Linked DNA regions of Homo sapiens. The protein of the gene in region 3 purifies or fractionates together with the protein of the main gene of each other region. This does not show direct contact. Each region holds a gene or a part of one and is shown on either strand. Other genes may lie near its edges.

Evidence for each region.
Region 1: the proteins of E2F2 (region 3) and L3MBTL3 purify together in Homo sapiens (co-immunoprecipitation; one study listed by IntAct). This does not show direct contact.
Region 2: the proteins of E2F2 (region 3) and NBR1 purify together in Homo sapiens (affinity purification with western blotting, with the first as the bait; one study listed by BioGRID). This does not show direct contact.

Annotation. Positions count from the first base shown.
Region 1 is NC_000006.12:130,053,045-130,056,696, reverse strand, and holds part of L3MBTL3 (lethal(3)malignant brain tumor-like protein 3), read right to left. Parts: intron 1,527-3,652; coding exon 1,442-1,526; intron 1-1,441. UniProt on the Homo sapiens protein: Is a negative regulator of Notch target genes expression, required for RBPJ-mediated transcriptional repression. It recruits KDM1A to Notch-responsive elements and promotes KDM1A-mediated H3K4me demethylation.
Region 2 is NC_000017.11:43,177,613-43,181,264, forward strand, and holds part of NBR1 (next to BRCA1 gene 1 protein), read left to right. Parts: intron 1-323; coding exon 324-386; intron 387-1,781; coding exon 1,782-1,800; intron 1,801-3,182; coding exon 3,183-3,205; intron 3,206-3,652. UniProt on the Homo sapiens protein: Ubiquitin-binding autophagy adapter that participates in different processes including host defense or intracellular homeostasis.
Region 3 is NC_000001.11:23,517,675-23,521,326, forward strand, and holds part of E2F2 (transcription factor E2F2), read right to left. Parts: intron 3,398-3,652; coding exon 3,239-3,397; intron 1,457-3,238; coding exon 1,342-1,456; intron 1-1,341. UniProt on the Homo sapiens protein: Transcription activator that binds DNA cooperatively with DP proteins through the E2 recognition site, 5'-TTTC[CG]CGC-3' found in the promoter region of a number of genes whose products are involved in cell cycle regulation or in DNA replication.

The DNA.
Region 1 (3,652 bases), on a different chromosome or scaffold from region 3:
AAAAGAAGGGCAGGGGAAATGATGGTGAAAGAAACAGACATTTGGAGGCAGAGTGCAGAGGAACTGAGGAATTTACACCCTTCATCTCAGTGATGTAAAATAGAAGGTCATCTCTGAAAAGACACAAAAGTTAAGCTGTGTGCCTAGGGCAGGTGGGGCTATTTCCAGTTTTTTGAGGAATTAACAGAACAAGGCTAGAATGCACCCCGGCACTGAGGAGAAGCACCTGGTTCATGGCCCTGGTTTGTCGGGACAGTATGACTGACTGTGCAGGCTGCAAGCTGAGGCAGGCAAGGGGATAGAGCCTTGTGGGGGACATCCCCCAGGGCCTCTATGGAAGTGACCCAAGGTCCACACAGAATAAGCAGAAAAGTACATCAAGACAAATACTAAAGGGAAGGGCTTCAGGGCCGGTTTCCTCCTGGAAATAAAATGCTGCCTGAGGAACAATGAAACAAACAAAAAAAAGGGCCAGGCACAGTGGCTCATGCCTGTAATCCCAGCACTTTGGGAGGTAGACACGGGCAGATGGCTTGAGGTCAGGAGTTCGAGACCAGCCTGGCCAATATGATGAAACCCCATCTCTACTAAAAATACAAAAATTAGCCAGGCTTGGTGGTGCACACCTGTAATCCCAGCTACTTGGGAGGCTGTGGCAGGGGAATCACGTGAACCCAGGAGGTGGAGGCTGCTGTGAGCCGAGATTGCGCCACCATACTTCAGCCTGGGTGACAGAGTGAGAATCCATCTCGAAAAGAGAGGGGAGGGGAGGGGAGGGAAGGGAAGGGGAGGGGACAGAAGGGAAGGGAAGGGAAGAGAAGACAGAAGAGATGAAAAGAGAAGGCAAAAAACAGGTTCCACGCCAGGAGCTCATGTTTTGAGAGGGAACATTAAAAACCTAAAACTGTGGGAAATGAACAAGAACAGAGGTTTTATAGAGAAGCAGAGGCAGGAAACACCTACTTGATGAGGGGAACAGAGAGAGAGAGAGAGAGAAAGAGAGAGGGAGAGAGGGATGGAGGGAGGGAGAGAGAGGGAGGGAGGGAGAGAGAGGGAGGGAGGGAGGGAGGGAGACAGGGAGAGGCGGAGACAGAGAGGGAGGGAGAGAGGGAGAGAAGGAGGGAGGGAGAAAGGGAGGGAGAGAGGGAGACAGGGAGGGAGAGAGGGAGAGAGGCAGGGAGAGAGGCAGGGAGAGAGGGAGGGAGAGAGGGAGGGAGAGAGGGAGGGAGGAAGACAGTTCTCATGCTTACCCTGAAACCACTTGAAAGTTAAGAATTTTCATTTTTTTCCTTATCCTCAAAATCTCAAATCTTTATTGACCAAACTGAATCAAAGAAAATCCTGAAGTAATACTTTAAGTGGCATGACTAAAATTTCCACCTGTGTGAACCATTTCCAATTTCATAAAGTTACAAGTAAGACTTTATTTTCATCAGCTCACCCTGCTTTAGTACAGCCGAATCCCCTCGTCTTTTCCTCCGTGCTCTCTGCGAACCCCTCAGGATTCTTACATCTTGTTTGTTCTCCTACAAAAAGAAAGGAAAATTATGACTTTAAAGTTCAAGAAATTGGCACCAGTGAATAGTTAGAGAGCTATCAGAAAGCACTTTTTCTGTTGTTCTTTTCTTCAGTTTTACTTTGTAACTTTTAAGGAAAGTAAGAATATAGTTCATCTGAAAACTGTTGCTTTTGGCCTGAGGTTATTACAAAATAAGACTGTATCCACGTGTTACCGGTTGGAAGGGCATGGACACCGCTCCCCGCTCCTTGAAACACTTTCTGCTCTCAGCTGCGTGACCGCTCTGCTCTGATTTTCCTCACGCCTTACTGGCTCCTCTTTGTCTCCTCTGCTGATGTCTCCTCCAATCCAGTTCCCTTCTCTACTCTTTCTAGTCCCTTTCCCTGGGTTTTCAAGGTCATCTTACATAGGCCAGATACTCCCAATCCACACCCTCAGCTTCCTCTTCCTTACTCCATGTGGCTGTAGACAAATGCCTACTTGGGATCTTCACCTGGATGGTTAATCAGCATTTCAAACCCATCATGGCCAAAGGACTCTGTGTTCTGCACTCCACCCTCATCTTCCCATTCTCAGTAAGAGACAGGATTATCCAGCCAATTGTTAAAGCCAAAGTTTTATCCCTGATTTTTCTCTTTTCCTCACACACTCTGACAACCCTACCTCTAACATTGATTCCCAAATCCACGGACTTCCATCATCTTCAGCCTTCTTACGTTGTCTACTGCAATAAACTCCTAACTGGTTTCCCTGATTCCACTCAGGGCTACAGTGGTCATTTAAAACATACATCATATCAAAGCATTCCCTTGTCTTAACTTTCCAGAGGCTTCCCCTGACACTCAGAATACAATGAACACCCTCGACTCTTGTTTACCATAAAACCCTACATGCCCTGGACCACAGGTACCTCTTCAACTTCATCTTACTCCACCCTCTCCTAAACCAGTGACCAGACTTCCTTTTATTTCCTCGAACAAAACATGCTGTGCAAGTTCTTACCTTAAGGACTTTCCTCTGGAAGTTCTACTACCCAGAAGACGCCTCACTCTCAACTTCACATAGCTGACTCCTCTTCATTCATCAGATCACACTGTTCATGCCATCGTCTTTGAGAGGGCTCCCTGACAACCCAACCTAAAGTAGTCAGCCAATCCTAATGCCCTATTTTAATTCTCAACGTAGCACTTATCACTAGGTGACATTTCTCCTGTTCATTTTGTTTGTAGATTAACTACCCCCTAAACAAGAATGCAGTGTCTCTGCCAGGAGAGACTCTATGTCATCTATTTGTCTTATGCATCCCTGTATTCTCAGCTCCTAGAACAGTGACTCCCAAGTAACAGTTGTACAATACCGATCTCAACGGAAACACTTCCAGATCTCAAAGTTCCCTTTTCCTATAAAACCATTAATAGATGCCTTTAGGAATATGATATTTATGTTTTAATTCACACATTTTGAATGGCTTTTCCCCAAATATACCTGATATTTGTGTGCCATTTTTTAACCACTCAGATAGTTTTTTTTGTTTTTTTTTTTTGAGACACAGTCTCGCTCTGTCGCCCAGGCTGGAGTGCAGTGGTGCAATCTCAGCTCATTGCAAGCTCCACCTCCCAGGTTCACGCCATTCTCCTGCCTCAGCCTCCCGAGTAGCTGGGACTACAGGAGCCTGCCACCACGCCTACCTAATTTTTTGTATTTTTAGTAAGGAAGGGGTTTCACCGGGTTAGCCAGGATGGTCTCGATCTCCCGACCTCGTGATCTGCCGGCCTCGGCCTCCCAAAGTGCTGGGATTACAGGCATGAGCCACCACGCCCAGCCCACTCAGATAGTTTTATGAGATCTGTCTGCAATTTAAAGAAATGAGATTGGCATTGTGTTGTCAAGAGGAATTTAAGATTCATCTACAAGACTGAAGGTTTTTAAATGTTCCCTTTCACCCTAGCACTAAATTTCAGGACATCCCACTTTTTCACCCTGAGAGAAGGATACTATTGTTTATGATTCCCATTTTGAGATCAGGACAGCAAGGCACACAGAGGCCATGTAACTTACTGACACTAACACAGATAGTCCTGGAACCCACATTTGAACTCAGTGGGCTCCAGAGCAGTGCTTGTGACTGTGATG
Region 2 (3,652 bases), on a different chromosome or scaffold from region 3:
ACACACACAGTTTGGTATTCTGATGAGATGTCATCTCATTGCTTCAATTTGCATTGTTCTGACCACCAGAAAGTTTGAAAGTCTTCTGATGTATTTGTTAGGTGTTCTGATTTCCTCTTGTATGAATTTTATGTATATTTTTACCTGGGTTGTTAATTGTATCATTAGCAGTTTTGCTGGTACTCTGGGTGTGTTGCAGATATTAACCCTTTGTTATGGGTTATTAAGGTTGTTTGTTGTTTGTCTTTTGATTTTGTGGGTTTTTTTTACTTTGACTTCTGTGTACATTATAACCTGCCTTTAAATATGTATCTCTTTTATAGGTAAAAGTTTCATTTGATCTGAATACTATTCAAATAAAATACCTGGATGAGGAAAATGAAGAGGTAAAATATATTATGGCACTTATTGCTAGGTGTTCAGAATAGGGATCTTATTTCTCCAGTGATATGGGCTTTAATAATTCAAAATAGTGTTTAGCTTATTTGTGTGGTGGTTTAAATATATTTGATAACTGAATATTCTAAGAAGACTTGCAGCATCTGAGATGGAGTTGAGAAATGGAGAAGCAACACTGAAGAATATCTCAGAGATAACTTTCACTTAAAAAAAAAAAAAGGAAACAGGGTCTCACTATGTTGCTCAGGCCAGTCTTGAACTCCTGGGCCCAAGCAGTCCTCCCACCTCAGCCTCCCAAAGTGCTGGGATTATAGGTGTGAGACACCCACCATGCCTGGCCTGGCCTGAGAGAACCTTTTTTTTTTTTCTTTTTTTTTTTTTGTGAGATGAAGCCTCACTCCATAACCTAGGCTGGAGTGCAGTGGTGCGATCTCTGCTCACTGCAACCTCCAGCTCCTGGGTTCAAGTGATTCTCCTGTCTCAGCCTTCTGAGTAGCTGGGATTACAGGTGTATACCACCACGCCTGGCTAATTTTTGTATTTTTAGTAGAGACGGTATTTCACCATGTTGGCCAAGCTGGTCTCGAACTCCTGGGCTCAAGCGATCAGCCCACCTCGGACTCCCAAAGTGCTGGGATTACAGTTGTGAGCTACCACACCTGGCCAAGATAACTTTTAAAATTATATAGTGACCTTAAGTTCACATATAGCACAAGCTACCACTTAGTTTATAATAATACAAATATAATGGCTAAGCTTTTTTTTTTTTTTTTTTTAAAGAGGGTCTCACTCTGTTGCCCAGGCTGGTGTGCATTGGCATAGCTTGCTGCAACCTAGAGCTCCTGGGTTCAAGGAATCCTCCCATCTCAGCCTTCTGGGTAGCTAGGACATACCTCTCTGCATCTGGCAAAATTTTTTAATTCTTTGGAGGGATGGAATCTCACTTTGTTGCTCAGGCTAATGGCTAAGCTTTATTGAGTGGTTACAGTGTGTCAGACTAGCCACAGTACCATGTATTGAGTACATTATTATCATCACTATTTTACTCATGAGGAAACTGAGGCACAGAGAGGTGAAAATAACTTGTCCAAATGCACAAAAACTTGGAAGTAGTAAAGTAGCCGTTCAGTCCATACCCTCTGGCTGTAGAACTCAAGCTCCTAACTGTTATATTGCACTGCCTTTTAATGTATCTGAAATAAAGGAGGGCACAGTAGATAAGCAATAAAATTTCTTAAGTGTTATTCATGACTAGCAAGTGATATGGAAAAGCTGAACGCTTGGCCTGAGTTTTTGTCTGTCCTATGGGGCTGGTCCTAGTAACAGAAATGCTCAACTGATGAGACACTTATAATTCACTGTTGCTTTTTTTCCTTTTATAGGTATCCATCAACAGTCAAGGTGAGTCCCTAAGAGAGTCTGTTCAGCCTTGTTTAAAAACCTTAATCTGCTCATTGAGGCATTTCTATTTATACTCAAACCTTATTGCAGTATTAATTTTAGAGTGACATTGCACTGATGGACATTAGTTACCTAGGGGATTTTATTGTATAGCAGTTTTTTATATATAGGATGATGCCTTTGAATGGACCCTAAGGACAGCTTTAATGGGAGGTTCTCATATTTAAGATGCCAGTCCTCTGAAATTAATATGCCTCCCAGTTCAACACATATAAGTATTCCCATGGTGTTGCATTTGTTTCTGACTTGGTATATATGTTAATATCAACTTATAAAACAAGTGGTATTCCAAAAGTTTATTTATCAGATGTTCAGAGCTTGGAGTGCATTTTCCCATAGGAACCATGTTATAGTTGAAGATTAGTTTCCCACGATAGCCCCTAAAATCTTAATTTAATCAGGTGAAATGATAGTATTAACATTGAACTCTCAGTGCGTAAATGTGAGGGACCTGGGTTGAGATTTTGTAACTGGAAGATTCCCAGTAGTGATGAAGGAGGGATTTAAGGGGAAGAACTGATCTACAGTAGATGCTGTTTGCAACAAAAAGGGAGTTTGTCAGCAAAAAGATAGTTGCTGTTCATATATAATAAGCTAAGAATTCTTTAAAGTCAGGATTAGCTGTACATTTAACAAATTTTTATTGTATATATTGAAGGTGCACAACATGATGTTATGAAATACATATACAGTAATGCATCGCTTAATGACAGAGATTTGTACTGAGAAATGCATCAATTAGGTGATTTTGTCATTATATGGACATCATAGAGTGTACTTACACAAACCTAGATGGTATAGCCTAGTACACACCTAGGATATATGGTATAACCTATTGCTTATAGGCTGCGAACCTGTAGAGCATGTTACTGTGCTGTATACTATAGACAGTTGAAACACAATGGTATTTGCATATCTAAACATAGAAAAGGTACAGTAAAAATGTGGCATTATAATCTTATGGGATCACCATCATACACATGGTTGACCAAAATGTTATGTGGCAATGGTTACTGTAGTGAAGCAAATTAACATATCTATCATCTCATTATAGTGGCCCTGTGGTGCCCTGAGCCCTCCCCAGAAACCAGCCATAATCTACTCATTTAGCAAAAATCATGAATATAATTTACGATTATTTAACTATAATATGTTCCTCATGTTGTACAGTCCATCTTTAGGATTGGCTATCCTTAATCTTATGGAATCTTTGGTTCTTGAATGAATGAATGGATGTGTACAAAATAAAAATAATTTTAAAATAATAGAATCTTTTGGGGTGTGTGAAGAAGTATCATGGTGTATATTTTTTGTTCTTTTAGGAGAATATGAAGAAGCGCTTAAGGTAATGATTATTTAATCTCATTTTTAAATAATTTAAAAAATATTATTATGGGTTGGTTTTTTTTCTTTTTTTGAGATGAGGTTGTGCTCTGTCATCCAGGCTGGTGTGCAGTGGCACAATCTGGGGTTGCTGCAGTCTTCACCTCCCAGGCTTAAGTGATCCTCCCACCTCAGCCTCCCGAGTAGCTGGAACTACAGAAACACGTCACCACGCCCGGCTAACTTTTTATATTTTTCTTAGAGACAGGGTTTCACCATGTTTCCCAGGCTGGTCTGGAACTCTTGGGCTCAAGCAATCTGCTGGCCTTGGCCTCCCAAGTGCTGGGATTATAGGCATGAGCCACTGCGTCTGGCCTAAAATATTTATTGACTGAAACTCAAACCTGAATTCCATTAGTTATGGGGAGAGACTAGTACGTATAAACACAGTGAAACCTGTTTATAGGGA
Region 3 (3,652 bases):
CGTGTAATCATGCCAAATATACCTCAGCAAATGGAGATTAAATTAAAGGCAGCGGAAAAGCACAGGTGTTTATGAAGTCTGGAGGTAATCAGAGAAGGCTTCCTTGAGGAAGTGACATTTGAGTTGAGACCTGTAGGATGAATAGCGGTAAATCAGGCAGAGAGGGAAGAACATTTCAGCTCGAGGGGAAGAGCATGTATGAGGGTCTTGCACGGCTAGGTGCGGTGGTTCACGCCTATAATCCCAGCACTTTGGGAGGCCAAGGCGGGCAAATCACTTCTATGCCGAAGTTCAAGACCAGCCTGGACAACGTGGCAAAACCTCGTCTCTACAAAAAAAACAAAAAATGTGCTAGGCATGGTGGCATGCACCTGTGGTCCCAGCTACTCAGGAGGGTGAGGTGGGAGGATGGCTTGAACCCGGGAGGCAGAGGTTGCAGTGAGCTGAGATCATGCCACTGCACTCCAGCCTGGGTGACAGAGCAAGACGCTGTCTTAAAAAAAATCAAATAGGTTGAGTGTGGTGGCTCATGCCTGTAATCCCAGCACTTTGGGAGGCCGAGGCAGGTGGATCATGAGGTCAGGAGTTCAAGACCAGCCTGACCAACATGGTGAAACCCCATCTCTACTAAAAAAAAAATACAAAACTTAGCCGGGAGTAGTGGCGGGCATCTGTAATCTCAGCTACTTGGGAGGCTGAGGCAGGAGAATCGCTTCAACCCAGGAGGCGGAGATTGCAGTCAGCCAAGATTGTGTCACTGCACTCCAGCCTGGGCAACAGAGTGAGACTCTGTCTCAAAAATAAATAAATAAATAAATAAATAAATCAAACAAAACAGAAGATCTCATACTAGGAATGAGCTTAGTGCAATGGGGAAACTGCAGACAGGTCAGTGTGGCCAAAACAAAGACAGATGGGGCAGCGGGGAAAAGGAGGTTGGCAACGTCAGCTGGGGTCTCAGAGCACCGAAGCCTCATAGGGAGTGTCAGGAATTTTGGTCTTTAACCTGGGAAAGCACGGTCAGCATGAAAGGATTTTCATGAGTATTGACACCGTCATACGTGGGCATGAGTGTGCATGTGCGCAGGAACCCAGGGCTGGTGGGATGCAGAAAGAAACCAGGAACAGAGATTTTCTCAGGCCACTACTCAGTCTCCGTTGCCCTTTCCAGCTTCTGCCATTTCTGCCCAAGCTTGAAGGCCACCAATATTGCCATGGACACCACAATGGGCCTGCAAAGCATGGGGCTAGGCAGTGCCAGGGACAGAGTCTGCAGAGCCGCCTGGAACGCTCCCTGGCAGGGTCTCAACCCTGCTCTCCACCAAATATTTCCCCTCTCACCTCAGTCCTGTCGGGCACTTCCAGTCTCGTCTGCGGAGGGGCCTTGACGGCAATCACTGTCTGCTCCTTAAAGTTGCCAACAGCACGGATATCCTGGTAAGTCACATAGGCCAGCGTAGGGCAGGAGAGTCAAGAAAAGTGACTGTCTGGTCAAAATTCAAACCCCAAACCTGCCAGGGAGCACCTTCACCCACCTCTCCTAAGCCTCTGAACATTACTTTCTCACTCCTTGTACAACTTAGAAATAATACAATCTGTAACCTGTTAATCTCATAAGCTACCTTAGATCCCTTTGGAAAGCAAATGGGAATATAAATCATAAAAAATGTTGCCTTACATTATAAATCATAAAAAATGTTGCCTTATGTAAAGGCTTCATCTCTCAAACTAGATCATTAGCTCTGAGAAGGCAGGAAGATGTGTTTTATTTCTTTATATTTCTCACAATGCCTAGCATCCTTCCAAAAATACAAGGTCAGATCCAAAACCAATTAGATATGAAATGATTTTGGAAAATGTATGAAAGAGCCTTAGCAAAGTCCATGCTCTTTGACCTCATCATTTCAATCCTAGGGATCTGACCTAGGAAACAAGTAAAAATATGGGAAAGCATTCTATGTATAAAGATATTCGGCCGAACGCGGCGGCTCATGCCTGTAATCCTAGCACTTTGGGAGGCTGAGGCGGGTGGATAACTTGAGGTCAGGAATTCAAGACCAGCCTGGCCAACATGGTGAAACTCCATCTCCACTAAAAATACAAAAATCAGCTGGGTGTGAAGGCCGGGTGCGGTATCTCACTCCTGTAACCCTAGCACTTACGAAGGCTGAGGTGGGTGGATCACCTGAGGTCAGGAGTTCGAGACCAGCCTGACCAACATGGTGAAACCCCGTCTCTACATAAAATACAAAAATTAGCCGGGTGTGGTGGCAGGCGCCTGTAATCTCAGCTACTTGGAAGGCTGAGGCAGGAGAATCGCTTGAACCCAGGGGGCAGAGGTTGCAGTGAGCCAAGATCATGGCACTGCACTCCAGCCTGGGCAGCAATAGTAAGACTCCATCTCAAAAAAAAAAAAAAAAAATTAGCCAGGCATGGTGGCGGGCACCTGTAATCCCAGCTACTTAGGAGGCTGAGGCAGGAGAGTCACTAGAACCCAGGAGGTGGAGGTTGCAGCGAGCCGAGATTGTGCCACTGCACTCCATCCTGGGCAAGAGTGAGACTCTGTCTCAAAAAAAAAAAAAAAAAAAAAAAAAAAAAAAAAAGCTATGTTCAGCAGGCACACAACTACATTACAACTATATTGAAATAAAACACATTCTGTGTGCAGTTCAAGAACAATGGCTATGTTAAGGTGGCAGCTCATCATTCTTTTTCTCCGTTTTCCAGATTTAAAGAAATTTACTTGGCTTATTTTCAATAATGAAAAAATACCTTTAATAAACTTGAGGCCAGGCACAGTGACTCATGCCTGTAATCTCAGCACTTTGGGAGACTGAGGCAGGAGGATCGACTGAAGCCAAGAGTTAGAGACCAGCCTGGGCAACAAAGCGAGACCCTGTCTATACAAAAAATAAAGAATTAGCCAGGCATGGTGGCACATGACTGTAGTTCCAGCTATTCAGGAGGCTGCGGTGGGAGGATCACTTGAACCCAGGAGGGCGAGGCTATAGCGAGCTATGATCATGCCATTGTACTACAGCCTGGATGACGGAATGAGTCCTTGTCTCTAAAAAAAATAAATAAATAATTTTAAAAATAGACTTGAGAAGAAAAGCCACCCAGGAAGGAAGAAACAGATGCCAGACCCTTAGGGTAAGTTACTGAATCAACTCAGGATAGATATAAACATGCAACAGGTTCCTGCTCCCTGACACCTTCCCCCAACCAAGGAGGATATCTCTTGTTGGCCTTGTCCTCAGTCAGGTGCTTGAAGCTCAGAGAGCAGCTCTGGATGAGCTGGTCCAAGGCCTGCTCCGTGTTCATCAGCTCCTTCAGCTCCTGCCCCAGCTGTTGCTGCTTCCCAGGTCTGGTGGGGTCTTCAAACATTCCCCTGCCTCTGGGAACAGAGCAGCCCCCCAGTGTCAGTCTGTGGGTGAAACTCCAGAACAAGGTCATTCAAAAAATAGTCTATGAGGGTGCTTCCCTGGGTTGTGGAAATCAGTGGTCATGCCTGTCTCTCAGGGAGCTACCAGGGATTGGAACCAGAGGTTTGGGGGTTGGGCTTGGGAGAAAAAACAAGTCAAGACCTGAACCCCATTTCTGAGGGGCTCTCGACTCTGTTCATCCCTATGCCCCAGCCTCCTCCAACTGG